Homo sapiens: one gene and its partners. The protein of the gene in region 4 interacts with the protein of the main gene of each other region in a biochemical or structural test. Each region holds a gene or a part of one and is shown on either strand. Other genes may lie near its edges. The genes, in order: CCDC149, CEP85, COPB2, MFHAS1, ANKRD13D, CHGB and PMM1.

Region 1 (3,500 bases), on a different chromosome or scaffold from region 4:
CACATCCACTACGCCCAGCTGATTTTTGCATTTTTAGTAGAGACGAGGTTTTGCCATGTTGGCCGGGCTGGTCTTGAACTCCTGATCTCGGGTGATACGCCTGCCTCAGCCTCCCAAAGTCCTGGGATTATAGACATGGGCCACCGTGCCCGGCCAAATTTTAAAAATGAATAAAACTTGCCCCACCTTGGGCAAGACAGCAAAGTTCACCATGCCCAGAACAGTGAAAAGCAGTTCATCAATTTGTTCTTCATTCATCCAAAAGTAGCATGGATGTGGTGCAGACAGCCAGAGGGCCAGAGGACACCTGAGGGGGGATGAGGGAGGACACAACAGTGACCTAGAGTGACCAAGGGCAAGATACTAGACTAAATTAGGAGAGTGTGGGTAGACAAAAACAGCCCACCCCAGCACCCCAGCCAATGACTTAGCCTTAGTCTTAGTATTTCGTTAAGTCCCTTAGAATTTAAATACAAATTCAGGGAAAGGGAGTGGTGTGGCTTCATATGCAGATTACATTTCCACTACTCAAACAACAAAAACTTGTAATCAAAATTAAGGCATTATAGCAAATTATAGTTTTCACACACCAGAGTTTCTGTCGTGAGGTTCATGCTCACTGTTCCACTGCTGCCTTGCCCGGCAGAGGCCTATGCACTCATAAGCATTATTATTTCATTTGATCCTCACAATTAGGATCACCTATGAGGTAGGTACTTTTACTACCCTATTTAAAGACGAGAAAAATGAGGGTCAGAGAAGTTACATGGTGCAGTCATTCCCTCAACATCCATTCTCCCTCTTCGAAAAGAAGCCCCCCAATTTTACTTGGGGATCTACCCTAGCTCCACTCACAGTCCACGTGTCATGCAGCAGGGCTCTGAACACAACTCCAGGCCTAAAACAATCAGATCACTACCTGCCTGAGCGATTTCTTGCAGTTTAGGTGAGTGATCTAAGTGGATTTAAATGGAGCATCCCAGGGTTTCACAGGATCTGCTAGAGAAGGGTCTGTCTTCCCCTCTGGACTTGAACTTGAAAGGATGGGAGGCTTAGACTAAAGCCAGGCAGCAAGCAGACTCAAAGATGGAGAGAAACTGTCTGAGTGGTGAATCAGCCAAAAGCCAGCCCTAGCATGGAATTACTAGTCATGTTGGTTATAGTCACTTCCAAGGGCTGCCATAACAAATTATCACAAACTGGGGGACTTAAAACAACAGAATTCAACTGTTGCACAGTCCTGGAGGTTTGAAGTCCAAAATTAAGGTGTTGGCAGGACTGTGTTCCCCAGTGAGGCTCTCAGGGAGGATTCTTCCTTGCCTCGTCCTAGTTTCCGGTGGTCACCAGCAATCTTTGGCTTTCCTTGGCTTGTAGCTGCATGACTCCAGTTTCTGCCTCTGTTGTCACATGCCTTCTTCCGTCTGTGTCTTCACATTGTCTTCTCTTTGTGCATCTCTGTGCCCAAATTTGCCTCTTCTGATAAGGACACCAGGTCATTGGATTAGAGCCCACCCAAGATGACCTCATCATAACTTGATTATATCTGCAAAGACCCTACTTCCAAATAAGGTCACATTCACAGGTGTTTGTGTGGTGGCAGTTGAGGGGAGGGTGTTAGGACTTGAACACATCGTTTTGGGGACACAGTACAACCTACAACATCAGCCAGTAAATTGCCTCTAAGCTGATCCACTTTGGTTTGGGTTTTTGATCTTTTGTACCAAGAGAAAGGCAGGGCCAAGACTTCCCCCCAGGTCTCTTATTATCTTCAGAGTCTAAGTCAACAACTGAAACCCAAAGCTGGGTCTTTACCTTAACCACAGAGCTGGACTCTATACCTACTCAACCTCTCCTTTCCAAATATCAGTGGCTAGGCCAGGCACGGTGGCTCATGCCTATAATCCCATCACTTTGGGAGGCTGAGGCAGGATTCCTTGAAGCCAGGAGCTCAAGATCAGCCTGGGCAACATAGCAAGACTCTATCTCTACAAAAAAAAAAAAAAAAAAATTGGCTGGGCATGGTGGCACGTGCCTGTAACTCCAGCTACTCAGGAGGCTGAAGCAGGAGAATCCCTTGGGCCCAGGAGATGGAGGCTGAAGTGAGCCATGATCGCACCACTGTACTCCAGCATGGGCAACAGAGTGAGACCTCATCTCTAAAACAACAACGACAAAAACCAAAAATCAGTCTCTACTTTGGGCGGAGGCCCATGGTTAACTGTCTTCTGCCTCCTGGCCCCTGCATACAACATGCTCAAGGAATAGGAGATTGATTGCTATCTAATTAACCAAAATTCAAATAGTGAAATGGAATTATGTATAGTTTATCATAGAGTGGTGGGCTGAGCGATGACCAGGATTTTTATCTTGGAAATAAAAAGTTATTGATTGCCTGCATACCTGTACTTTGAGATGTCTCCAATCTTGAAAGCTCACCTCAGGTGGCGATAAGAATATCTGCCCCTCCCCAGACATTTAATTTCCAAAACAGAACCCTGGTCATGCTTCTTTCACACGCATGGGTGTGTTTACTTCCAGGCCTGAAAGAAGGCTGTAATTTCAGCTTATTATACCAAATATATGAAAATAAAACTGACCTCTGTAGGATTGTTTTAAATGAAAACTGCTTCCTAGAGGCAAGTGGAGGAAGCAACTGATTGAAAGAGAGGACGGGGCTCTGGGCAGGTGATGGAGAGGGGATCCAGGGTGGGAGACAGCACCCAGGACTTCTGCAGAAATAAATGCAAGCCCACGAAAATCCCATGTAGTCCAGATTAGCTGTGCAGTGATGTCTTCCACAGGTCCTTCTGCCAGGTCCCCAAACCATTTCGTAACACCACAGCTGCTGAGCACACTCTTCCCTGAATCTTACCTGTCTGGTACCAGACCCAGTCACACCCATGGAACCCCTGCCAGCCAAACTTGACTGGGCAGGGGAATTACCTGGGCAGCTCAGCTTGTAAGAAAGGCAGATCAGGGGGCTGCAACCCCAGGCACTTTTCAGCAGTAGGTGTATTAGTTTCTTGTGGCTGCTTGATATGGTTTGGCTCTGTGTCCCCACTCAAATCTCACCTTGAATTGCATTCCCATAACTCCCACATGTTGTGGGAGGGACCTGGTGGGAGATAATTGAATCATGGGGCTAGTTTCCTCCATAATGTTCTCGTGATAGTGAATAAGTCTCACGAGATCTGATGGTTTTATAAAGAGGAGTTCTCCTGCAGAAGCTCTCTCTCTTTGCCTGCTGCCATCCATGTAAGATGTTACTTGCTCCTCCTTGCCTGCTGCCATCCATGTAAGATGTTACTTGCTCCTCCTTGCCTTCCAGCATGATTGTGAGGCCTCCCCAGTCATGTGGAACAGCAGGCCCATGAAATCTCTCTTTCTTTTGTAAATCACCCAGTCTCAGGTATGTCTTTATAAGCAGCATGAAAACGGACTAATACATTGCTGTAACAAATGATCATAAACGGGGTGGCTTAAAACAACAGGAGTGTATT
Region 2 (3,500 bases), on a different chromosome or scaffold from region 4:
TCTCAGATGTCCCCCTGGTCCAGGGCTCAGGCAGGTTAACAGCCCAGAAAGACAACCCTTGCTCTGGTAAAGCCACTTCCTCACAGCAACCCAGAGGCTGCCAACTTCCTGAGAGGACTGCTGAAACTTTCCAGTGACAAACTTCTGTTATGACTCAGGGAAGGTTTGCCCAAGAGAAAGTGAGTGGGAAGAGATCTGGTTCTATAGAACGACAGAGGAGCAGAGGTGGCAGAGATAGATAGGGACATGAGGCTGGCTGGACCTGCCAAAGGTTCCTCCACGCTGCTGCCTGGGGGACCTGGCTGAACACCCAGGTGTTTGGCTCTAACAAGCCAAAGTGAGGGGTAGAATAGCGTGGTGGTGGTGATGGAAGGGTATGGAAAACTGAGGAGTCTGTTAAGATACTTTATTTTATAATCAAAATACGCAATACAAACAAATGGACATAACAAAGATTCATATAAATAACTGGTTATAAACTTTATGAGGAAAAATACCCGTCAGCATGGTGGCTGGGCTCCCAATGCACAGGGTGGAGACCAACCAGGCGGCTCTGCCTTTAAGCAGCAGGAGCCCAGAGGCTGAAGGGCTGGCTGGGTGGGGCTGCTCTGAATGGAAGGGATAAGTCACTCCATAAATAAAACACAAACTTGTAAAAACACTTAAGAAAGAGCCTCATTCAGGCCCAGGCATGAGGTCCAAGATGCTGCCAACAGCCCAAAGCTTAGCAAAAATCTTGTAGTGGCTGACTGGCCCACACGTGGCCCCTGCCTGGCCTGGCTCCAGATCTAGAGGAGGCACGGCTGGCCCAACAACCAGATACTAACAAGTGTGAGATGCTCCCTAAACCAGGAGGCAAGAAAAACCAGAGGGCAAAGGTCCCTCACTAAAGCCCCAGAGAAACAACCCAGGAAACACTAAAAGCTGTACTTTAAAGCTGACTTGTACTGGGTACTCTGAACTTTCAAGGAGGCCAGAGCAGGAAAGGGAAAGGAATAACCCCCACCACCCCCAACACAAGAGAGGCACAAATTAGAGGGCTGGGCACAGGCTGTAGCCCTGGGTGAGGGGGTAAGCAGCTTGACAGTTGCTCTGTGGTCTCTGGGATATAATTCTGCCCAAGGCTAGAACCACAGAGAAGAGTTTGCACTCTTAAGTCCAGGAAGGGGACTACCTGGAAGGCCTGAGAACAAAGGAGAAAGTTTAGCACACTAAACACATGGCCAGGACCCTAGGGACACAAGGCAGCTGGAGAGTGGGATCTCTTGTTAAATGGCATGGTAGGCAGATTAGAGTCCTGGCTATAATCCCTAGGGCCCCAATCCTAGTAGTTACGTGCTAACCAACACATTACCCTGAGGCTTCTGGGAGAACAAGAGCCCTGAGGAAGAAGCAGTAAGACCAGGCATGAGAAAACCCAGAAAGCCAGCTCAGTTCCCAAGAAGGCTGGCACATGGGGCCTGAGAATTCTTAAATGGCCATTGTCACTGGTACTTGCTCAGCCTTTCCAGGCCCCTCTGATGAGCTCTCTAATCAGCAGGACCAAGGTGTGAAGTGGGAATGAACATGGATCCATCCCATTGGATGGAGAAGAAAGGTGGACAGCCTGTTCGTCTCTCATGTCAGCCTAGGGCTGGGAACAGTTTGTGAGGACTTATCTGTTGTACCTGCCAAAAGTTAATTAGTAACTCACCGTCTAGAGTGAATTAACAGGACAAACGTAATCCAACATGCCAGTGTGGGTAGGACACAGTTCCCTAATCAGCCCTTGGCCCCCAGATGCAGGCTCTCCCCTCCCCTCTGAGACCTCTCTGGGAATAGCAGACAAGAGAATGTCAGGGCAGAAACCTGCTGGACTAGGCTCTCAGCAGCCCAGCTCCTCCCTGGGGGAATCCCCCAGAATTCCTCACTGTGTGACACAGTTTTCTCCCATGTCCTGGGCATATCTGTCTGACATGGTGGTCCTTAAGTCCTCAATGTCACGACGCAGCTGTTGAACCTCTTCTAGTTTCCTCTTGATCACATCTGGCTTCTGCAAATCTAGCTGAGTCTCTGGGTGCTGTGCTGCTGGGGAGAAGAGCATTTCAAGAGAATGTTAGTTATGAGACATTTTCATGTGGAGGGTGCAGTATGGATAGGCAGTATCTTGAACCCACAGTCTTGGGACATGCACTTTAAAAAAAGCATCTGGGGACAGTGGGTTAATTTGCTGCTGAAGGTCCACTTTTAGTTTGTCCTGCATGCAAGTACCCCATAGCTTGTTTCCAAAAACAGATTTGTGAACACCTACTTTGTGAAACAAATAAATGTCCAGAGGGCAGTGGCCAGGACTATGTACTCTGTCTACATATTACCACAAGAATATGGGAAAGCAGGATGGGGGAGAGAAGAGAAAGAAGGACCCTCCTTCCTGGGCCCCAGACTGGTCTGAGGACTCACAGTGAATGCCCAGGAGCAGGGAGAGATTGGGGTCATGGCCCTGGGCCCTCTGGGTCACAATGCTACAGACAGCCTGCAGATCTTGAAGGCAACTGGCCAACTCCTGGTGCAGCTCAAGTGCCAGCTGGGCCGTGTCTGGTGAAGGTGGAGACCCTGGTTGGGCCTGGCGCAGGTGTTCCTGGAGTGTCAGATTCTTCTCAATCAAGTCCTGGTTTTGCACTGAAAGCTGAGCAGACAGATGGGTAAGCACATTAACTCAGGCCCAGGGAGAGGAAGAGTATCTGTGCATGAGTGTGTGGGTGTGGAAGGGATGGGTGAGTCATAGGCAGTGTCCCTCCTTCCCCAACCCTACCCCTGCCAACAGGCTTTTAGCACTTCTCCCACTATCAGTATCAGGCCTGGTTCTTCCTGTGGGTAGGTTGGGCCCACAGGGCTCTAGCACTGGAGAGGAAGCCAACCCTCAACTGGTTCTGAATCATCAGCATCCAAGTTTCTGTTCAAGAACCAGAGAAGATGCTCCCGCCCCTAGGAACTCTATCTCAAGCCAGTCCCTCAGCCAACTCTGTTAGCCAGGCTATTAGAGAAGGCTTAATGTGAACCGTGAAATCTGAGGAGACACTGGTTTCAATCTCTCCCTGCCACCCTGACAAAAGTGGCCACCAGCCAGCCTGATCACAGTGTGTCAGAGGAATAAAGAGAGTAAGAAAGACAATATGACAGCTAGTAGCCACTAGGTGGGGGGCTGGAGAAGCTGGAACCTGGAGGATCCAGCCCTGGAACAAGTCCTGCCTTTTCAAACTCTCACCTCAGTGGAGTCAGACTTTATTACAAAAACCATCTATTCATGTATGTCTGTCTGTTTCCCTCTCTTCCTGACAGCTTAATCCACTTTCCTTCCCTTCCTACCTTGATTGTATTTTTATAGAGTCTGAATAGAGTCCGTCCTTCAGTCCCAGGCCCTCCACCCACACTGGGCCATGTGACAATCCTAACTCAAGGAGGTTCCTTCCTAGGCACTAGGCCAGTCAGTGAACTTGGTTGCCCCCTGCTGACAGCTCTGT
Region 3 (3,500 bases), on a different chromosome or scaffold from region 4:
GCAGGTCTGGGCATCTTATAATGCTGTGCTGAGTATTGAAAAAGACAAAAGATATAAACCAAGTATGCCGCCTAGTTCAGTAAATGGTATCCATAATTATTTGTAATATAATTGTCTTATAAAGGTTAAGAATGCATTATGCATATTTCCCTTAATATCGTAAAACATTCTTGGCTGTAAGTTTTGCCTTTGGCAGTCTTTTGATACCAGCCTTTACAGTGTTATAAACAACTTTAAAGATAGTTGTCTTATGTCCATTGGGAAAATTTTCGTTGACTCTGCAGCATTCTGTTTTCTCATTATTTAAATGTTAAAATATCCTCTGTATTTTGCTGAATTTAAGTCTTTAAAACCTGGAGTGAGATATTTTTATTCATTTGAATGATCAGCTTTAAAATGAAGATAGTCTTTGTAATAATATAGTGCCTTCCTGTGGTATAAATGTCATGAGCAAAGTTCTAGGCATCTTGGTGCTCAACAAATACTGGTTGAATAATTGGAATCCTCCTCCTTTGCATTTCCAGCCATTCTCACCTTCCTGCCTCCAGTTGCCTTTATTTATGAGAAGACCATTCCAATAACATTTCAGCAGTAATGCCATATTCATAATTTCCTTTTCAATTTGTTGGCTAGAATTTTTTTTGTAACTTTGTATTCAAAGAAATGTATAACTTTTAAAAGATGTTAAATTGTAATAATGAACTAAATAACATTTGTTATTAGAATTCTTTTACCATAACATGAATTATTGTTCCTTAACTTCTACATGTCTTTGGTCCTCTGTACTTCCCTCCCTGGCTTCTGTGATTTCTAGGTTTGTGGTGGTGTGTGGTGATGGGGAGTATATCATCTACACAGCAATGGCATTGAGAAACAAGAGCTTTGGATCTGCTCAGGAGTTTGCATGGGCCCACGATTCTTCAGAGTAAGTTTTGATTGTATGATAGCCAGCATGCCCTGATTGCAGATGTGTTGTGTGCTGCTTGAAGACTCTCAAGGCTTGATGTGGGCTGTGATTCTCCGTGTTAAAAAACAGTTCTCACCAGAGCTGTCCATTGGAAGATGAGAGTCAGAGGCGAGTGTATAGCATGAGCCGTCTTAGTGCTTTCTTTGTTCTGCGTTAGGCTGGCTCACTCAAGCTGATACAATAATTCCATTTAACTGGGGACCCAGCACCCATTTCTTTGATGGAGCCCATGGCAGGACCTGGTGCTTTATGGGCTTAAGGCACAGTAGACCCTCATGTCTGCCTTGGCAGGCCTTGGCATGCCCTCCCTGTGATGTAGTGTCCTGAGGTGCTACTGCCCCTTTATGAGCTACTTGGGAGTGATGTTGTGGTTTGATCATTTTGATGAGAAATTTATTAAATCTTTTTTAAAACTTATTTTCTGTGATAGTACCCACTGCCCATTCTTAACAAATTTCTGTCTGAATTCAGAATGTTCATAAAATGTTCTCATTAAAAGCAGGAAAGATCATTTAACTCTGACTTTTTTACTAGTCATTGGCTCTGGTTCCTTTTTGATTCCTGTTTAATGCACGTAATAAACATTAGGGGTTTAGTGTTTTCAGACCACACAACTGAATTACATTTTCACAGTTTTTTTAGTTTTGTTTGCCCCACATTTTATGTTGCATCTTGCCCCCAACAGTGGGGTAACTTAAGCCTCAGCGTTGTGTAATAAGATACATTTTTTAAAATGTTACAACAGTAAGATTTATTGAGAGGTATGGAATTGTTCTGATATTTTCATAAATTTCCTAAATACACATATACATACAGTTCTATGTATTCAAAGGTAATGTGTTATCTTAAGCAAAATTATAGTTGATGAATTGCCTTCTCTCAGCACACCTCTTCCTCTATTTTGATAGTCCTTTTTTTCAGCTCTATCCAGCCAAGACCTTGCTCAGCATCTTTCCTGTCCTGAGCAAAGCCCTCATCACATCACTTCCTCAGACAATCTTAAATATCCAGTGATAGCCACAGCTCCTTTTTTCAAGGCAGAGGCCTGAATATAAGCAGTTGTTGCTGATGATGGCTGATTAATGAACCATTTGTCACAGTTTTTATTATTTAAATCGCCCTTATTGAGGTATAATTTACAGAAGACAGAATGTACCACTTAATTGTACAGCGATCCCCCGATCTGTGGTTTCCCTTCCTGCAGTTTTAGTTACCCACAGTCAACTGTGTTCCAAAAATATTAAGTGGAAAAGTCCAGAAATAAACAACTCATAAGTTTTAAATTGCCCAGTGTTCTGAGTTGCATGGTGAAATCTTGAGCCATCCTACCTGGGACGTGAATCATCGCTTTGTCTAGCATATCCACATTGTATATGCTGCCCACCTCTTACATTATAGGAAAAAACATAGTGTATATAGGGTTCAGTACTATCTGAGGTTTCAGGCATCCATTGGGGCTTAGAACGTATCCCCCATGGATAAGGGAGGACTACTGTTCATGTCAGTAGATTTGGGCAAATGTATGTAATCCGTAACTACTAACACAATCAAATTATAGAACATTTCTATCATCCCCGCAAAATCCCCTTGTCTCCATTAACAGTCTGTCCATACCCCCCATCCACCCATTCCCCAGTCCCAGGCAAACACTGATGAGTGCCTTTTGTCACTATATAGATTAGAGTTGTCTTTGGAGTTTCATATAAATGGAATCATACAGTATGTACTCTTGAGTCCAGCATCTTTTGTTCAGTATAATGTTTTTGAGATTCATCCATATTCTTGCCTGGATCAGTAATTGGTTTCTTTATTTGCAGAGTAGCATTCCATTATATGAATATACGATAATTTGTTTAATCATTCACCTATTGTGGACATTTGGGTCATTTTCAGTTTCTAAAGTGGTTTGTAAGCCCTAGTAATTCATGTCATACACAGTATAAAACCCTTTCATCATTTGTCCAACTGTAAGGAGTTCTCTGATCTCTTAGGAAAACAGTACATCAGATAATCTTCAAATATTTATTTTATATTTTTGCATAATTACTGAAAAATATTTGAAGATATTTCCAACATTTGGTAGAACTATGATTTAGTATATAACATGTTATGTTTGCCTTCCCTTTTTTCTCCCAGGTATGCAATAAGAGAGAGCAACAGCATTGTAAAGATATTTAAGAACTTTAAGGAAAAAAAATCATTTAAACCAGATTTTGGAGCAGAAAGTGAGTGTGATCTACATATGATACATTTTTAAATTCTTTGTAATGGCTCAAAAATGCCTAAGCAAAACTCTTTTTATGTTCCCTTTAGGTATCTACGGCGGCTTCTTATTGGGAGTCAGATCTGTAAATGGCTTAGCCTTCTATGACTGGGACAATACAGAACTCATACGAAGAATTGAAATTCAGCCCAAACATGTGAGTTTCCCCTCCATTGTTGTTTTTGGAATATTTATTTTTGTGATGAGTTCTGGGTCCCTAAGGCCAAGAAGTGTCTTTTGTACCCTGCTCTCCCTCTTCGATTATCAAAA
Region 4 (3,500 bases):
TTTTGAGATGGAGTCTTGCTCTGTTGCCCAGGCTGGAGTGCAGTGGAGTGATCTTGACTCACTGCAACCTCTGCCTCCTGGATTCAAGCGATTCTCCTGCCTCAGCCTCCCAAGTAGCTGGAATTAGAGGCATGCGCCACCACACCTGGCTAATTTTTGTATTTTTAGTAGAGGCGGGGGTTTCGCCAGGTTGGCCAGGCTGGTCTTGAACTCCTGACCTCAGATGATCCACCCACCTCAGTCTCGCAAAGTGCTGGGATTATAAGCGTGAGCCACTAGGCTTGGCCACCTTTGTCTTTTTAAGAAGTCATTTTGCTTCTGGGGACATTAAAAATTGTTTACTTTTATGTTTTATAAAAGCGTTAAGTTGTCCTATAAACTATAACAATTTTATATGCAACGCTGAAAAAGTTGGACTTTGAATTTTCTTAACTTTGGGATGTTACAGTAAAAGTAAATAGTAAATTACTGTCTCTCTTGATTTTATACAGAAAAAATGTATAAAGTTGCACTAATATCTTTTAAAGTATTTTTATGTGAAAAGCCTATTTTGGCCTTGTCCTGTTGGATTTTCTGGCCTGAGCTGCCCTACTGTAGTTGACCACGGGAAGTATAATGGTAAATTTCTCTTTTCTTATTTTGGTTTATACAAGAAAAGTAATGGGCAGCGTGCAGTGGCTCAGGGCTGTAATCCCTTTGCTTTGGGAGGCTGAGGCAGGAGGATCACTTGGGTCAAGGAGTTCGAGACCAGCCTGAGTAATGTAGCCAGACTCCGTGTCTACAAAAAAAAATAAAAAATAAAAATCAGCTAAGCGTGCACACTTGTGGTCCCAGCTAGTTGGGGGGCTGAGGTGGGACAATCACTTGAGCATGGGAGTTTGAGGTTGCAGTGAACTATGATTGTGCCATTGCACTCTGACCCTGTCTCTTAAAAAAAAAAAAAGAAATGATTGGAAAATGCACATCCAGCAATCACTAGTTTCATAGTTTTTTGTAAAAATAAATCACATTGTCAGAGAGAAGACCTATTTGTCTTATTTAAAATAGGTAATCTGACAACGTGATTATCTTTTTAAGACATCTTATTTAAGACAAATGGGTTGAGTGACAGGAGATTCTTTTGGAAACTCGGAGATGGCCTATGATGAAGCCTAAATGTCACTGTGAAAGTCTTGACCTGCTTTCTCCATCCTGGCCAACATCCTAGCCTGGTCAACCTGGTGAAACCCCATCTCTACAAAAAATACAAAAAAATTAGCTGGGCATGGTGGCTCATGCCTGTAATCCCAGCTCCTGGGAAGAATGAGGCACGAGAATCCCTTGAACTTGGGAGGCGGAGGTTGCAGTGAGCTGAGATTGTGCCACTGCGCTCCAGCCTGGGCGACAGGGCAAGACCCTGGCTCCGAAAAGAAAGTCTTTACCTGCTTCCTGCAGGTACCCTTTCTTTTTTGCAGACTTGCTGCCCATAGCTGGTAGCCAGGATTCCCTTCCTTTTGCTGTTTTCCTTCTCATTGGTTGGTCCTGTATACTTGTCTTAGAGCAAGTTTCTTCTTGTGGGATATTTGTTTATGCTTTTATTCTGTTCTACCAGTATGACCTCTAAACTCAAAGAGTTGGTACTCTTGAAGTTGAGTGAGGGTACATTAAGATGTGGTGGTTAGGACACGGGCCTGCAGCAAGATTCAAGTGCTTTGATATTCCTTTTAAGCAGATGAGTGAATACTGTGTTTTTGAATTGGAAGAGTGTGTCTTAGTGAGTTAAACTTGCATTGACTGCAGATTTTCACTAAATATCCTACTCTCCAAATTATTTAAGGTCATTTTAAAAAATAAGGAGAAAGCAACCCAAATCAGTAGACAGAATGAGTTATGTGGCTTTCTTTAGCTTTACTGTCTTTCATTTACTCAGTAACTTGATGCCTTTTTGTATCTCATGCCAAATGTCTTCTGTCCCTCAGTTTCTTGCACACGGAGTGTACCTCTCCGACAACACAGCATATTTGACTTGTTTTGTTGGTGTTTGGTTGCGTCATGATATATCTTTGATTAGGTTGTTCACTTGCTGCTTCTGAGCCAGAGACACACCCGAGACTTAGTAGCTTCTGCAGAGCCTCTCAGATGTTTGCTGAATGATAGTTTGGTCTTTTTGTGAGAAATAACTTTTTTTTTGGGGGGGTGGGGGCAGGGTCTCACTCTGTCACCGAGGTTGGAATGCATTGGGGCAATAATGGCTTACTGCAGCCTCGACCTCTTGGGCTCAGGTGATGATCCTCCTACTTCAGCCTCCTGAGTAGCTGGGACTCCAGAAACACCCTACCATGCCTGGCTAATTTTTGTGTTGTTTTGTAGAGACAGGGTTTCGCTGTGTTGCTCAGGCTGGTCTCAAAGTCTGCCTGCCTCAGCCTTCCAAAGTGCTGGGATTATAGGCTTGAGCCACCATGCCCTGCCTGAGAACTATCTCTTTTTCTTTGTTATTCACACACTCAGTGAAAATCCCAGGTAGTATTGTAATGATTATCTGGCTTTGTTTAGCTTCCCAACTCCCTCCCCCTCACAGTGTTCCTCCAGCATTCCCATTGTGCGTCTATGACTGGTCTTACCCTTGAATGGGTCCTTCATTTTGACCACTGAAGCAAAGCAAAATTCTTGCCTTATTATATCTAAGTTTTAGAATTACTGGAATTTGAGCATGACCTAGTTGTTTGGATTGAATTAGTCATTGTTTTTAATTTTACAAAGGTTTTTCAATATCTCTTTGGTTAAGCTTTATTAATATTGATGCTTCTTGGCTTTTCTTTTTATGAATAGGCCTCTGAACTCCCTGGGACTTTGTTTTATGTAAAAATCAAAACCTTAATCAGGCACTAGGATAAACAAATACTGTGCAGAATAGAGTTCTAGAAGGCTAGAAAGGCCTTTGGAGTATTTGAATTATTTTAAATATTAGGTGCCTCTTCTTTAAACCCTGGAATAGACTCTTAAGTCCATCTCTGCACAAGTAGTTTAGAATTTCCTAAAGTATTTTTTCTTTAATTTTTTTTTTCTTTTTGTGTGTGTGTGTGTGTGTGTGTGTGTGTGTGTGTGTGTGTTTGTGAAATAGAGATAGGGCCTTTTTATGTTGCCCAAGCTGGTCTTGATCTCCTGGCCTCAAATGGTCCTCCCCACTCAGCCTCCCAAAATGTTGGGATTAGAGGCGTGAGCCACCATACCCAACCAGTATTTTTTATTTAGTGGATATTTTATGTCATACTCTGAGGTTATTCCCCTTTGTCCGTGAAGAGGTGAGGGGCTTTAACTCTGTATTATAGGAGGGGAATGAGTGGGGAAAGGAGGAATTGGACATTTCTGTTTTTCTTCTCATCTACCTATTAACTTGCTTCTATCCATGGGAGCCCTTTCTTTTTTTTTTTTTTTTTTTTTTTTGAGACTGAGTCTCGCTCTGTTGCCCAGGCTGGAGTGTAGTGGCGCTGTCTGAGCTCATTGCAACCTCCACCTCCTGG
Region 5 (4,036 bases), on a different chromosome or scaffold from region 4:
GAGGGCTCAGGGAAGGGACCGCCTCTGAGAAAAGGGGTGGCCAGGGAGGGCTGCAGTAGTGGTGAGCAGGTGAGCTCTGGGCATTCAGAAGCCTTCGGGCTGCTACCAACCCCAGGACCTCACAGATTGACACCATAGCGTGGGGTGGCAAAGTGACCCCAGATGGCACAGGCGCCATGTGACTACAGGGAGAAGGCAGGGTAAAAATGGCAATCAGGCCTTCCAGCCCAGAGTCTCAGAACTGAGGACGCCCTACAGCAGGAAGTGATGCTCAAGCTAGCTGGCCCTCCTCAATCATGTTCCACGTAGGGAAAGGGAGAATAGAGGGTCAGCCTTGGCCACCTAGCAAAACCAGGGCCCCAGACCCCAGGCTGGGCCTCCAGTAATCAAGGGCCGGAACTGAGCTGACGGAGGCCTGCACCCTAGTTCCGGTGTGGGTGGAGGGGCCGGCCCTGATTTCGAAACTCGCCTTCCTCTCCTGACGCTGGCAGCCAACCGCAGCCTCTGCAAAAGGGACTCGTGCGGCGGGCGAAGGCAGCCGTTCGCCGCGGGCGGTCCTCCGCCGGGACGGCTCTGCCGCTGCCTGGGCCTGCGCCCCTCTCTCCCCGAACTCCTATCCCTGACTTCAGGGCCCCGGGGGCCGCCTCCCCGCATCGCTGGGCCTGCAGACACCGGCCAGGTCCCAGGGGAAGGTGCTTCCCGCTCAGCCGGCAAGCACTTAGTGGCGTCTGCTCGTTGCTCGTCTCCAGGCCGGGTGAGGGGAGCCGGGGCGCCCCACTTCACCCGCACACCCCAGCAGAGTCGGTGACCGCGGGACCTGGGGTAGGAAGACCGGGGCGAGCAAGGGGATCCGCGGGGGAAACGCAGGCATCACGGCTGCAGCAGGACCGCGGCCCGCCGCGCACGCGCGTGCACTACCGAGGGGCCCAGTGCCCGCCCCCTCCGGCCCCGCCTTCCTCTTCCGGACCCGGCTCCGGGGGTCTGCGCAGGGCTCGGGGCGCCTCCTGCGGGCCGCGGGCGGAGCTGTAACCGGGCACCGCCCTCCAGGCCGCCCCAGCGGACCCGGGCCCGACCGAGGTCGGGGCGCAGACCCAAGGCCGGGCATCTCCTCGGGCGCTCGCGGTTGCTCTGCCGCGCGCTGGCCTGGCCGCGGTTGCCATGGTTGCGGGGGGACGGGGGCGCGCGCGAAGCCCCGCCCCGGCCCGGCGCAGCCCCGCCCGCTCCGCCGCCCGCCCCGCCCTCCCTGCCGCCCGCGCTGCCGCCGCCGCCGCCGCCGCCGCTACTGCTGCGGGGGCCGCGGGGGGCGCAGCTGGGGCGCGGCTCGGAGGGGAGGCTAGGGGGCCGTGCCAGGCCCGAAGCCGAGGCGGGGCCGGGATGCGGCGCTGAGGCCCAGCATGGCCGGCCCGGGCCCCACCTTCCCGCTGCACCGGCTCGTCTGGGCGAACCGGCATCGCGAACTGGAGGCCGCACTGCACAGCCACCAGGTGAGGCCCCGCTGGGGCACCCGGCCCTTCCCCCGGGTCCCCCACCCAAGGCTGTGGCCTCCGTCCTGGAGCCCCCCCCCCCCCCCCGCCCGCTCAGCTCCGCAGCCACATCCTGGGCCTTCCTCCCCTGCACGATCCCAAGCCCAGGTCACCGGCCCCTCGCGCCTGAGCCTCTGGCCTCCTCTCCCCTGCGCTGGGCCTTGCCCTGCTCGCCCGAACTCGCTTCCGCATCCTTGCTGACCCAAGCTGAGAACAAGAACTCTGGTCCTGGTCCCCAGGTTCCGCCAAACTCCTGACAACCTGCAGCTCTGCCTGACCAGGCCCCGCCGCCAGACCCCGGCTCTGCCCCTGCCTTCCCTCCTGCCCCCTCCTCTCCCCTGCCAGGACACGCAGGCCACCCTCTGCCATCTCCCTGGTCAGTCCGCCGTCCTTATTTCCCACAGCGATTCCCAACCCTGCTCGCCCTGGCAGCCTCCCTGCCTTGCCCTCTTCTCTCCTGCCCTTTGTGAGTGTCCCGTCTCCCCCAGCACGACATTGAACAGGAGGACCCCCGCGGGCGGACCCCACTGGAGCTGGCCGTGTCTCTGGGAAACCTGGAGTCTGTGAGAGTGCTCCTTCGACACAATGCCAACGTGGGCAAAGAGAACCGCCAGGGCTGGGCAGGTACTGCAGAGGACAAGGGGCTCCCCCTGAGGCTGGCAGGCGGGGGGCAGTGAGCAGCCAGGCCTGGGGTCATCTGGAGGGCTCCCCTCAGCAGCCTGGTGCCCGCAGTCCTGCAGGAGGCAGTCAGCACTGGAGACCCCGAGATGGTGCAGCTGGTGCTCCAGTATCGGGACTACCAGAGGGCCACGCAGAGGCTGGCGGGCATTCCGGAACTGCTCAACAAACTTCGCCAGGTACAGCAGGGCACAGTTATGGAGGTGGGGTACCATGGCAGGGCACCACCCTGGTTACTGTGCCAGGCCTGGCCTTGGAAAGGCACCCAGTTTGTGCAGTGTGCCTCCTGCCACCAGCAAGGAGGTCTGTCTATCTTGACCCCAGCCCAGGGTCACGTAGGAAAGAGAGACGGCCAGGCTCACGTGGGAGAGACTGGACCCTTTGGAAGAGAAGCCTTGCCAGCTTTGGGCCTCCTGAAGAATGCAGATTACCTGGAGCAGGGACTTCAGGTTGACTCGGTGGATTATGGCCTGAAACCCTGGAATACTTGCTACTACGCACCCTTCTGGAAGCACACGGAGGGGCCTGGCTGGCAGAGCATACTATCTCATACCCCCTACCCCAGGAGCAGGCTCGGAGGGAGCCACTGTGCCCCCTTTACAGAGTAGGACTCTGAGACCCAGTGGAAACAAAGGCTCCCCCAGGGCTCTGCACAGGCTCATGGCCAGGTTGAGGCTGGCCCTCCACCTCCAGGTGCTTACAGCCTCATTGTCTGAAGACCACTGTAGTGCCCCACTTGGCCCACCCTCTCCAGGGCAGAGTGGTTGGGCGTAGCTGAGCCATAGCAGTGCGTCAAGACTTGATGAAGGGCCAGGCGTTGTGGCTTACTCCTGTAATCCCAGCGCTTTCTGAGGCCAAAGTGGGCGGATCACTTGAGCCCAGGAGGTGGAGACCAGCCTGGGCAACATGGTGAAAGCCGTCTCTACAAAAAGTACAAAAATTAGCTGGGAGTGGTGGCACACACCTGTGGTCCCAGCTACTCGGGAGGCTGAGGTGGAAGAATCACCTGAGCCCAGGGAGGCAGAGGTTGCAGTGAGCCGAGATTGCACCACTACACTCCAGCCTGGGTGACAGAGCAAGTCTCAAAAAAAAAAAAAAAAAAAAAAAAGACCTGATGAAGGGCTGGGCTGGCTGTGGACAAGGGGCTCCCAGGCCTGCTGGAGCCAGCAGCAGGCAGGGCGCTGACAAGCAGCTCTGGTTTCTCTTAGGCCCCCGATTTCTACGTTGAGATGAAGTGGGAGTTCACCAGCTGGGGTGAGTGGGGACCTCTGGGCTCCCAGGGATTTGGGGTGGGGCCTTTGGAAAGACCCCCAGTGACCCCTGTGCACCCTGCAGTGCCCCTTGTGTCTAAGATGTGCCCAAGCGATGTGTACCGCGTGTGGAAGCGGGGTGAGAGCCTGCGAGTAGACACCAGTCTCCTGGGCTTCGAGCACATGACCTGGCAGCGGGGCCGGAGGAGCTTCATCTTCAAGGGCCAGGGTGAGCTCTGGACAAACTCATTGCAGCTCCTCGGCCCTTGGGTTTCCTGCGGCTTGGGAGGACGGTGCTGCCTTTTCTCTCCACTTTCCAGATGTGGAAGCTGAGGTTGGGGATGGAGGGGCATCCAGGGGCCAAGACTGACCCACTTGGCAGCAGGTGGCTGAGGGTACATGATCGCCCTCTCTGCACTGCTGGCGCCCAGCACTGATTTGCGCCCCCTCTGTCCACCCCTACCGGCCGGCAGAGGCAGGAGCCCTGGTGATGGAAGTGGACCATGACCGGCAGGTGGTGCATGTGGAGACACTGGGGCTCACTCTGCAGGAGCCCGAAACACTGCTGGCCGCCATGCGGCCCAG
Region 6 (3,500 bases), on a different chromosome or scaffold from region 4:
TAAAAAAAAAGGGAAAGTATTAGCAAGAAACTGCATTATCAAGAAGGCTTAGTAAAGCTGCATTTTTTAAAAGTCATCTGATTTATTAGGGGAGTTATTCTCTCGCAGTCATTTATTTGCAGAAGATATTACAGATTTCCAGCGGAAAGAGAAAGTGCTGAAATGGGTGTGTTCTCAAGTAGCCATTTGGAGGATGAAAGAACAGTTGAGTATATTGGACCTTGGGTACCAAAAGTGGGCCAACTGGATCTTGCCTGATAAGCATTTCAGGAGGAACTTGGGGTCTTCATAGCATAACTTTGGGCTTCTTGAAACAGTTGAAGTGATCCCAGATCATGCTTTGAAAAGAAAAATTTGGTAAAGTAAGTAAATGAATAGGTGTTTTATTTCCAGGTTGAGCCCCATGATATGTAATTGATAGGGGGTGGGGAATGTTTAAAGAGGCTTAGAGCAAAGCATTTTGCAAGGAAAGGTCAGGTTGCTGCATTTGAATAGCTTTCATGTCTGATGTCTGAGAACTTGCCCCAGCTAGCTCTACTCTCTTCTCAGGGACTTAGAAGAATTTTCTGCACTAGCGTCTCCTGCTCAGTTGCCTGCTACAGGAATGCCAGGAGAACTGTAGAGATGGACTTACATGTAAATGCTTTGGGCTGTTCTAATAGAAAGGGCTTAGAACAAAGTCAAAGTGAAAAAAGAATCAAAGCAGCTTTGAGACAGAAAAAAAATGGCACTGAAAAATTAAAATTACCTGAAGCATTTTTGAAGAAGACAAAGCAACTTCAAACACTGTTTTAAGATAGGCGGAATCCCATGAAATTTTATTGAAATAAATTAAAATTTTTCTTTTAAAATATTCTTATAAACCAATGGTTAAACACCAATTTGCATAAAATATTATGGACTTGATGCTGTACTAGGAGGGTTAGATATCTGCCATGTTCTTTACATGGTTGCAAACAGTGTGGAGAAAGAGAAACACAATGTTGATACGGATGCATAAACGAGCTTGTTCAGGCAAAGGCCTTGCGGGTGAAAAATGAGGTAATTAATTATGGAAGACATCCATAACCATGTTTTTGTCAAGGAAGTAAGTTTTGGGAGGATATATTTTTGGAAACAGAGATACGGAGAGAGAGCCACAGATCTTTACCTATTTGGGGTAGGCAGAGAAGGACCAAGGAGGGCATTCTTGTTTTATTAGACTTAGTTTGGTTTAAACTTTTTTTTTTTTGAGACGGAGTCTGGCCCTGTCACCCAGGCTGGAGTACAGTGGCACGATCATGGCTCACTGCAACCTCCGCCTCCTGGGTTCAAGCAATTCTCCTGCCTCAGCCTCCCAGGTAGCTGGCGCGTGCCACCACGCCTGGCTAATTTTTTGTAGTTTTAGTAGAGACAGGGTTTTGTCATGTTAGCCAGGTTGGTCTCGATCTCCTGACCTTGTGATCCACCAGCCTTGGCCTCCCAAAGTGCTGGGATTACAAGCATGAGCCACCGCACCCAGCCCTAGCTTAAACTTTTAATTGAAATAAAATATATAGAAAATGGAACAGATCATGAGTATACAGCTTAATACGCACACCTGTGTAACCAGCACTGAGATTAAAAAATGGGACATTTCTGGTTCCCCAGAAGTCCCCTCCTTGTCTGTGGTCTAGATTTGATTTATACCGGATCTAAAATAGCATTTGTTTCCAAATATATTTAAGACATTGCCAGGGGAAAAACAACAACTAATGTGGGGTGATTTTGTCAGTTGGGGTCACACAGCTTTCAAAAACCAACTCAAGTCATTTTCCATTCTTTTTCTCCTTCAAAGCTGTCAATTCCATGCCAGTGGATAACAGGAACCACAATGAAGGAATGGTAAGTTGCAATGTCAATCTTAGAATCTAGACTTGTGTCTAGACTCTAGATTCTCCCAGTCCCTATTATACCAAACCAAACACACGCATGACATAATCTTACAAAGCCAGGTTTTCATTGCTGACAGAATGTGAGCAAGGGATGCCCCTCCTGCACTGAGCTCCTATGTCCTGTCAGGATGGTTTAGCACCCCTGAGGATAGCTGTGCCATTGGTTCAGAAATGGGTGTTTATTTCCCTTCTCCAGATAATCCCAACTCAGTGCCTTCTTGCATTATTCTGTGTAGAAGTTTGGAAGATTTCATTCTGTTCCTGTAAATCTGTATCTCCGCCCTAAGAATACTGCATCAGCCCAGGTCACGTAATCAAGTCTTCCTTGACAGCAGCTCTGGGTTGAGTAGTCTGTCATCCAGTGATACCAGCTTCTCCAACCTGCTTTCGGGTTTCCCCCCAGGTGACTCGCTGCATCATTGAGGTCCTCTCAAATGCCTTGTCGAAGTCCAGCGCTCCACCCATCACCCCTGAGTGCCGCCAAGTCCTGAAGACGAGTAAGTGTCCCACACGGCAGGCAGATCTTGGTCACTGCAGTGATCCTTGTTCCTACTCCCTCCACATCACCTTCTACTTTATCTACAAATGACCTGGGGGCATAATGCACTAGGAAGAGTATTGATTGACTAGGCCAGTATCTGGGAGACAGAAGATATGACTCCTAGTTCCTGCTTTACCACTTCGCAGCTGTGTGACTATAGGAAAGACAGTTTGCCTCTCTTTTCCTCAAAGTAAAATGAAGGAGTTGAACTCAGTGATAGTCTTTCAGATGTCTATCCGTTCTTAAATTCCTTAGTTCCATACTTTGGATTTTTAGAACCGGACTTCCTTTGGGTGGAGGGGGTTTGGGAAATGCTGGTTTGTGATTAGATGAGGAGGGGGGTTATGGAAGTGTTGGACAATGACAGAGGGAGATTTAAAAATCATTCTTCTCTTTGCCTTTTGCTCTTCTGACAGTGAGAATCAGGAAGCTGAGAAGCAAGAAACTTAGAAAGGTGACTTAAAATTCTGGCCTATTTACACAACAAATTAGCTAAGATATTTTAATGTATAGCTTACTAGAATAGAAGGTGCCACCAAATGGTACCAGGAGTTCCAGGCCTGAGAACTGGAAGGGTTTCAGGTAGAGGCAGTGCATTCCAGTGAGGCAGACTAATGGCTTTCTGAGTCCAGCCTGTGAAGTGTTCTCAATATGAAACCATTTCTGCTGAAAATAAAATTTGAACAGTAATATAAGCAGTACCCATTGGAAATTGACATTATGAGGTCAATTTTACAAAACTATGCAGTCTCTGTTATGCATGAAGCCACACTGATTCAAACAAATCCAGAAAACACTGCCCTCTTCAACACTGTCCTCTGCTTTTAAACTTTTAGTCAGGCTGGGAACAGTAGATTTTATCTTATTTTTTCACCTTTAAAAATCTTTCAGGTGGGCATAGTGGCTCACACCTGTAATCCCAGCACTTTGGGAGGCCGAGGCAGGTGGATCACCTGAGGTCAGCAGTTTGAGACCAGCCTGGCCAACATGGTGAAACCCTGTCTCTACTAAAAATACAAAAAAAAAAAAAAAAAATTAGCCAGGCA
Region 7 (3,927 bases), on a different chromosome or scaffold from region 4:
GTGGATCACAAGGTCAGGGGATTGAGACCATCCTGGCTAACATGGTGAAACCCTGTCTCTACTAAAAAATACAAAAAAATTAGCCGGGCGTGGTGGCACGCGCCTGTAGTCCCAGCTACTCGGGAGGGCTGAGGCAGGAGAATGGCGTGAACTTGGGAGGCAGAGCTTGCAGTGAGCTGAGATCACGCCACTGCACTCCAGCCTGGGCGACAGAGCGAGACTCCGTCTCAAAAAAAAAAAGAAAAAAAAATTAGCTGGGCGTGGTGGCAAGCGCCTGTAATCCCAGCTACTCAGGAGGCTGAGGCAGGAGAATCCCTTGAACCCGGGAGGTGGAGGTTGCAGTGAACCGAGATCATGCCATCGCACTCCAGCCTGGGGGACAAGAATGAGATTTCATCTCCAAAAAAAAAAAAAAAAAAAGATATTAGCCAGGCATGGTGGCACTTGCCTGTAGTCCCAGCTACCAGCTACTCCAGAAGCTGAGGCGGGAGAATCACTTGAGCCCAGGAGTTCGAGGCTGCAGTGAGCTGTGATAGCGCCACTGCACTCCAGACTGAGTGACAGAGTGAGACCCCGGTCTCTAACAACAACAACAACAAAATAGCATCACAATCAAGTTGATTTTTGAGGAGCCAAAGAACAATAACAAAAATAGCCTCACAAAACAATGCTTAATATTTGCTCTGGGCAAATAGATCCAGATAAAGGCCTGGAGGGAAGCCACACCACAGTAACCACATTAACTTGGGGAGCCGGCCAGGCTCCCCAAGTGCGGTCAGAGTGGACTTTACCCTTCTCTGTTACGTTTCCATTCTTTACCAGGAGAGTGTGCTCATGAAAATGTGTACGATTAAAAATTAACTTTCAAAAGGCACTAAGCACAGAGGCTGGCCCGTAGACAAATTAATAGGCTGTTCTTATTCAGGTTGTTATGTTTGTGGAGCAAAAGGTCAGAGGGAGGAGTCAGAACTGTGCCTAGGCCCTGCCACTTTTGTTCCAGTTCTTTTATTCATTTATTTGTTTGTTTGAGACGGAGTTTCACTCTTGTTGCCCAGGCTGGAGTGCAATGGCACAATCTTGGCTCACTGCAACCTCCACCTCCTGGGTTCAATCGATTCTCCTGCCTCTGCCTCCCCAGTAGCTGGGACTACAGGCACACGACACCACGCCCATCTACTTTTTGTTTTGTTTTGTTTTGAGACTGAGTCTCCCTCTGTCGCCCAGGCTGTAGTGCAATGGCACATTCTCGGCTCACTGCAACTTCTGCCTCTCGGGTTCAAGTGATTCTCCTGCCTCAGCCTCCCGACTAGCTAGGATTACAGGTGCATGCCACCACGCCTGGCTAATTTTTTGTATTTTTAGTAGAGATAGGGTTTCACGATATTGGTCAGGCTGGTCTTAAACTCCTGACATCGTGATCTGTCTGCCTCGGCCTCCCAAAGTGCTGGGATTACAGGCGTGAGCCACTGAACCCAGCCTAATTTTTGTATTTTTAGTAGAGACGGGGTTTCACCATGTTAGCCAGACTGATCTAGAATTCCTGACCTCAGGTGATCTGCCCACCATGGCCTCCCAAAGTGCTGGGATTACAGGCGTGACCCACAAGCAAATGGCCCACCTTTGCTCCAGTCCTGCTATCTTCCTCCCGGATCCACCCCTGCAGGAAGGCCTCCAGGGCCCAAGCCAGGGCAACTTCACCACAGAGGATGGGGAGGGGCATTCGGGACCTAAGAGAGGAGGCTAAGACCTGGGTTCCCATCAGCCACTGCCCAGTAAAGCCCATCCCACTGCTCCCCCACGCTAGGAGACCTGTTGGTTGGTCCTTGAGGCCCCCAGACTGGAGGGTGGGTTACCCACAGGGAGGGCATGAATGAAGCCTGCTTACTGATGCATCCAGCTGGTGAGGGGGCTTTTGGGGACTCACTCACAATGAGACCCAATGGGAGAAAAACTGAGCAGAGGTAAGAGGCTCAACACAGCGAGAGTCTTTAGAAGAAAACTAGACTCTTACCCTCACTATTCCTCAGTGTCCTCACAGCAAACAGGCTAGGCCTGGAGCCTCTCACATCCGGGTGGGTAGAGCTCATAAACGAATTTGAAAAGAAGCCCTCTCTGCTCCACGACTGGGGGTGGAAGGTAAAGTGGGTGATGGGGCTTCAGAAACTAGACCCAGTCCCAGGCCTGCAAAGGTCGGGGTGGGAAGACTCCGAGACGCCCTGTCTCCCACCAGATGATGACTGACGCTTGGCTGTGTGCTTGTGTGCCTGGAACCCCGGTTCAGAAGCCAGCTCCGACCACTGGTGTGTCGTAGGGCTGAACTAGGGTGGGATCCCCAGCTCAGGAGGCGGGGGCGTCCGTGAGCCAGGCCTTAGCGGCGTGTGACAGCCTCCGGGGAGGGAGGGAGCTAGGCCCCTGCTCGCAGCCTCCTCCCTCCAGTACTGGATCCAACCCCAGCACTCCCAAGCAGAACACAGGCAAGGACGCTGCGGGGTCAGTGACGTGAGGGCCAGGTCCCCTCACTCCCGGTGGGTGGCCCCGGATGTCAGGGGGCCGGGTACCGCCGCATCCCACACTCGGTCCCCGGGTGTCCACGGTCACGCTGCTGCAGACCCCACACTCAGCCTCGGGGGTGTCCGCGTGACACTCCCGGTGGGAGCTTCCAATCTTCAGGGTCCTACCTGGCGAGCCGGCGTGAGGGTCCCGTCCACGTCAAACAGGCAGAGGACGCGCTCCTTCCTGCGGGCTGCCTGGGCGGTGACTGCCATGGCTGCAGGTCCGCGCGCGGGGCGGAGTCCCGAAGATGCAACGGCAGAAGCAGCTCAGGGATAAGTGCTGACGGGGCGGGGCATTAGGGGGCGGGGGCCAGTGGACTGCCTGATTGGCCAAATGAAGAAGGGGCGTGGTCTAGGCGGGCGGAAGCGGGGGCGGGGCCTGAGCTGATTCTCATTGCTCGTGGAGGAGGGGAGCGCGGCATAGGGCGGAGCGGAGCCCTCCAGGTTCGATTGGATTGCTCCAAACAAGGCGGAGGAGGGGCCTGAGCCTGGGACCCGCAGGAAGTGAGAGGGTGAACCCGGAAGACAGGGGCGGGGCCAGAATTGGCGGGTTGATAGTGATTGCAACAGGCCGATTAAGGGGCTGGGTCGGGCGGGGCCTCTACCATGCAGTGCAGTGTCTAGTGGGCCAGGCGGGACTAAGAGAGCCGAGGTCGCTCCCCATCCACTCTCACAAGGTTTGTGGCCATCTCTTTGCCTTACAAATTTTGAGCTGTAGGAAATCTCCTGAGCCGGGCGCGGTGGTTCACGCCTGTAATCCCAGCAGTTTGGGACGTCGAGGCGGGCGGATCACCGGAGGTCGGGAGTTCGAGACCAGCCTGACCAACATGGAGAAACCTCGTCTCTACTAAAAATACAAAATTAGCCAGGCGTGGTGGCGCATGCCTGTAATCTCAGCTACTCAGGAGGCTGAGGCAGGAGAATCGCTTGATTCCAAAGAAGCCAGAGGTTGCGGTGAGCCGAGATCGCGCCATTGCACTCCAGCCTCAAAAAAAAAAAAAAAAAAAAAAAAGGAAAGAAAAGAAAAGAAAAGAAATCTCCTGAAGGCCTTTGTTCAGGCTTTGGACTTTGCCAAATTGCCTTCCCCGAGCCTTATTCCTTCTGTCCACACATAAGACCCAGCTCTCAGGGTCTACCTGCTTGGAGACCTTCCCAGATTCTTCTTTTTTTTTTTTTTTTTTGAGACAGAGTCTCGCTCTGCCCAGGCTGGAGTGCAGTGGCGGGATCTCTGCCCACTGCAACCTCCACCTCCCAGGTTCAAGCGGTTCTCATGCCTCAGCCTCCCGAGTAGCTGGGACTGCAGGCGTGTGCCACCATGCCCACCTAATTTTTGTATTTTTACTTACTTTTATGTTTATTTTATTTTATTTTTGAC

What was found.
Region 1: the proteins of MFHAS1 (region 4) and CCDC149 form a complex in vitro, tested with the Homo sapiens proteins (one large-scale study listed by BioGRID and IntAct).
Region 2: the proteins of MFHAS1 (region 4) and CEP85 form a complex in vitro, tested with the Homo sapiens proteins (one large-scale study listed by BioGRID and IntAct).
Region 3: the proteins of MFHAS1 (region 4) and COPB2 form a complex in vitro, tested with the Homo sapiens proteins (one large-scale study listed by BioGRID and IntAct).
Region 5: the proteins of MFHAS1 (region 4) and ANKRD13D form a complex in vitro, tested with the Homo sapiens proteins (one large-scale study listed by BioGRID and IntAct).
Region 6: the proteins of MFHAS1 (region 4) and CHGB form a complex in vitro, tested with the Homo sapiens proteins (one large-scale study listed by BioGRID and IntAct).
Region 7: the proteins of MFHAS1 (region 4) and PMM1 form a complex in vitro, tested with the Homo sapiens proteins (one large-scale study listed by BioGRID and IntAct).

Annotation. Positions count from the first base shown.
Region 1 is NC_000004.12:24,906,543-24,910,042, forward strand, and holds part of CCDC149 (coiled-coil domain-containing protein 149), read right to left. Parts: intron 1-3,500.
Region 2 is NC_000001.11:26,275,700-26,279,199, reverse strand, and holds the end of CEP85 (centrosomal protein of 85 kDa), read right to left. Parts: intron 2,666-3,500; coding exon 2,440-2,665; intron 2,068-2,439; coding exon of another isoform or gene 2,065-2,067; coding exon 1,907-2,064; 3' UTR 392-1,906; downstream 1-391. UniProt on the Homo sapiens protein: Acts as a regulator of centriole duplication through a direct interaction with STIL, a key factor involved in the early steps of centriole formation.
Region 3 is NC_000003.12:139,369,148-139,372,647, reverse strand, and holds part of COPB2 (coatomer subunit beta'), read left to right. Parts: intron 1-814; coding exon 815-925; intron 926-3,103; coding exon 3,104-3,192; intron 3,193-3,280; coding exon 3,281-3,387; intron 3,388-3,500. UniProt on the Homo sapiens protein: The coatomer is a cytosolic protein complex that binds to dilysine motifs and reversibly associates with Golgi non-clathrin-coated vesicles, which further mediate biosynthetic protein transport from the ER, via the Golgi up to the trans Golgi network.
Region 4 is NC_000008.11:8,883,631-8,887,130, reverse strand, and holds part of MFHAS1 (malignant fibrous histiocytoma-amplified sequence 1), read left to right. Parts: intron 1-3,500. UniProt on the Homo sapiens protein: Probable GTP-binding protein. Functions in innate immunity and more specifically the inflammatory response as a regulator of the Toll-like receptor TLR2 and TLR4 signaling pathways.
Region 5 is NC_000011.10:67,288,067-67,292,102, forward strand, and holds the start of ANKRD13D (ankyrin repeat domain-containing protein 13D), read left to right. Parts: upstream 1-1,236; 5' UTR 1,237-1,394; coding exon 1,395-1,484; intron 1,485-1,599; exon of another isoform or gene 1,600-2,011; coding exon 2,012-2,147; intron 2,148-2,241; exon of another isoform or gene 2,242-2,255; coding exon 2,256-2,380; intron 2,381-3,409; coding exon 3,410-3,455; intron 3,456-3,536; coding exon 3,537-3,680; intron 3,681-3,924; coding exon 3,925-4,036. UniProt on the Homo sapiens protein: Ubiquitin-binding protein that specifically recognizes and binds 'Lys-63'-linked ubiquitin. Does not bind 'Lys-48'-linked ubiquitin.
Region 6 is NC_000020.11:5,914,510-5,918,009, forward strand, and holds part of CHGB (secretogranin-1 precursor), read left to right. Parts: intron 1-1,816; coding exon 1,817-1,863; intron 1,864-2,316; coding exon 2,317-2,410; intron 2,411-3,500. UniProt on the Homo sapiens protein: Secretogranin-1 is a neuroendocrine secretory granule protein, which may be the precursor for other biologically active peptides.
Region 7 is NC_000022.11:41,587,041-41,590,967, forward strand, and holds the start of PMM1 (phosphomannomutase 1), read right to left. Parts: upstream 2,801-3,927; 5' UTR 2,766-2,800; coding exon 2,679-2,765; intron 2,124-2,678; coding exon of another isoform or gene 2,012-2,123; intron 1,728-2,011; coding exon of another isoform or gene 1,619-1,727; intron 1-1,618. UniProt on the Homo sapiens protein: Involved in the synthesis of the GDP-mannose and dolichol-phosphate-mannose required for a number of critical mannosyl transfer reactions. In addition, may be responsible for the degradation of glucose-1,6-bisphosphate in ischemic brain.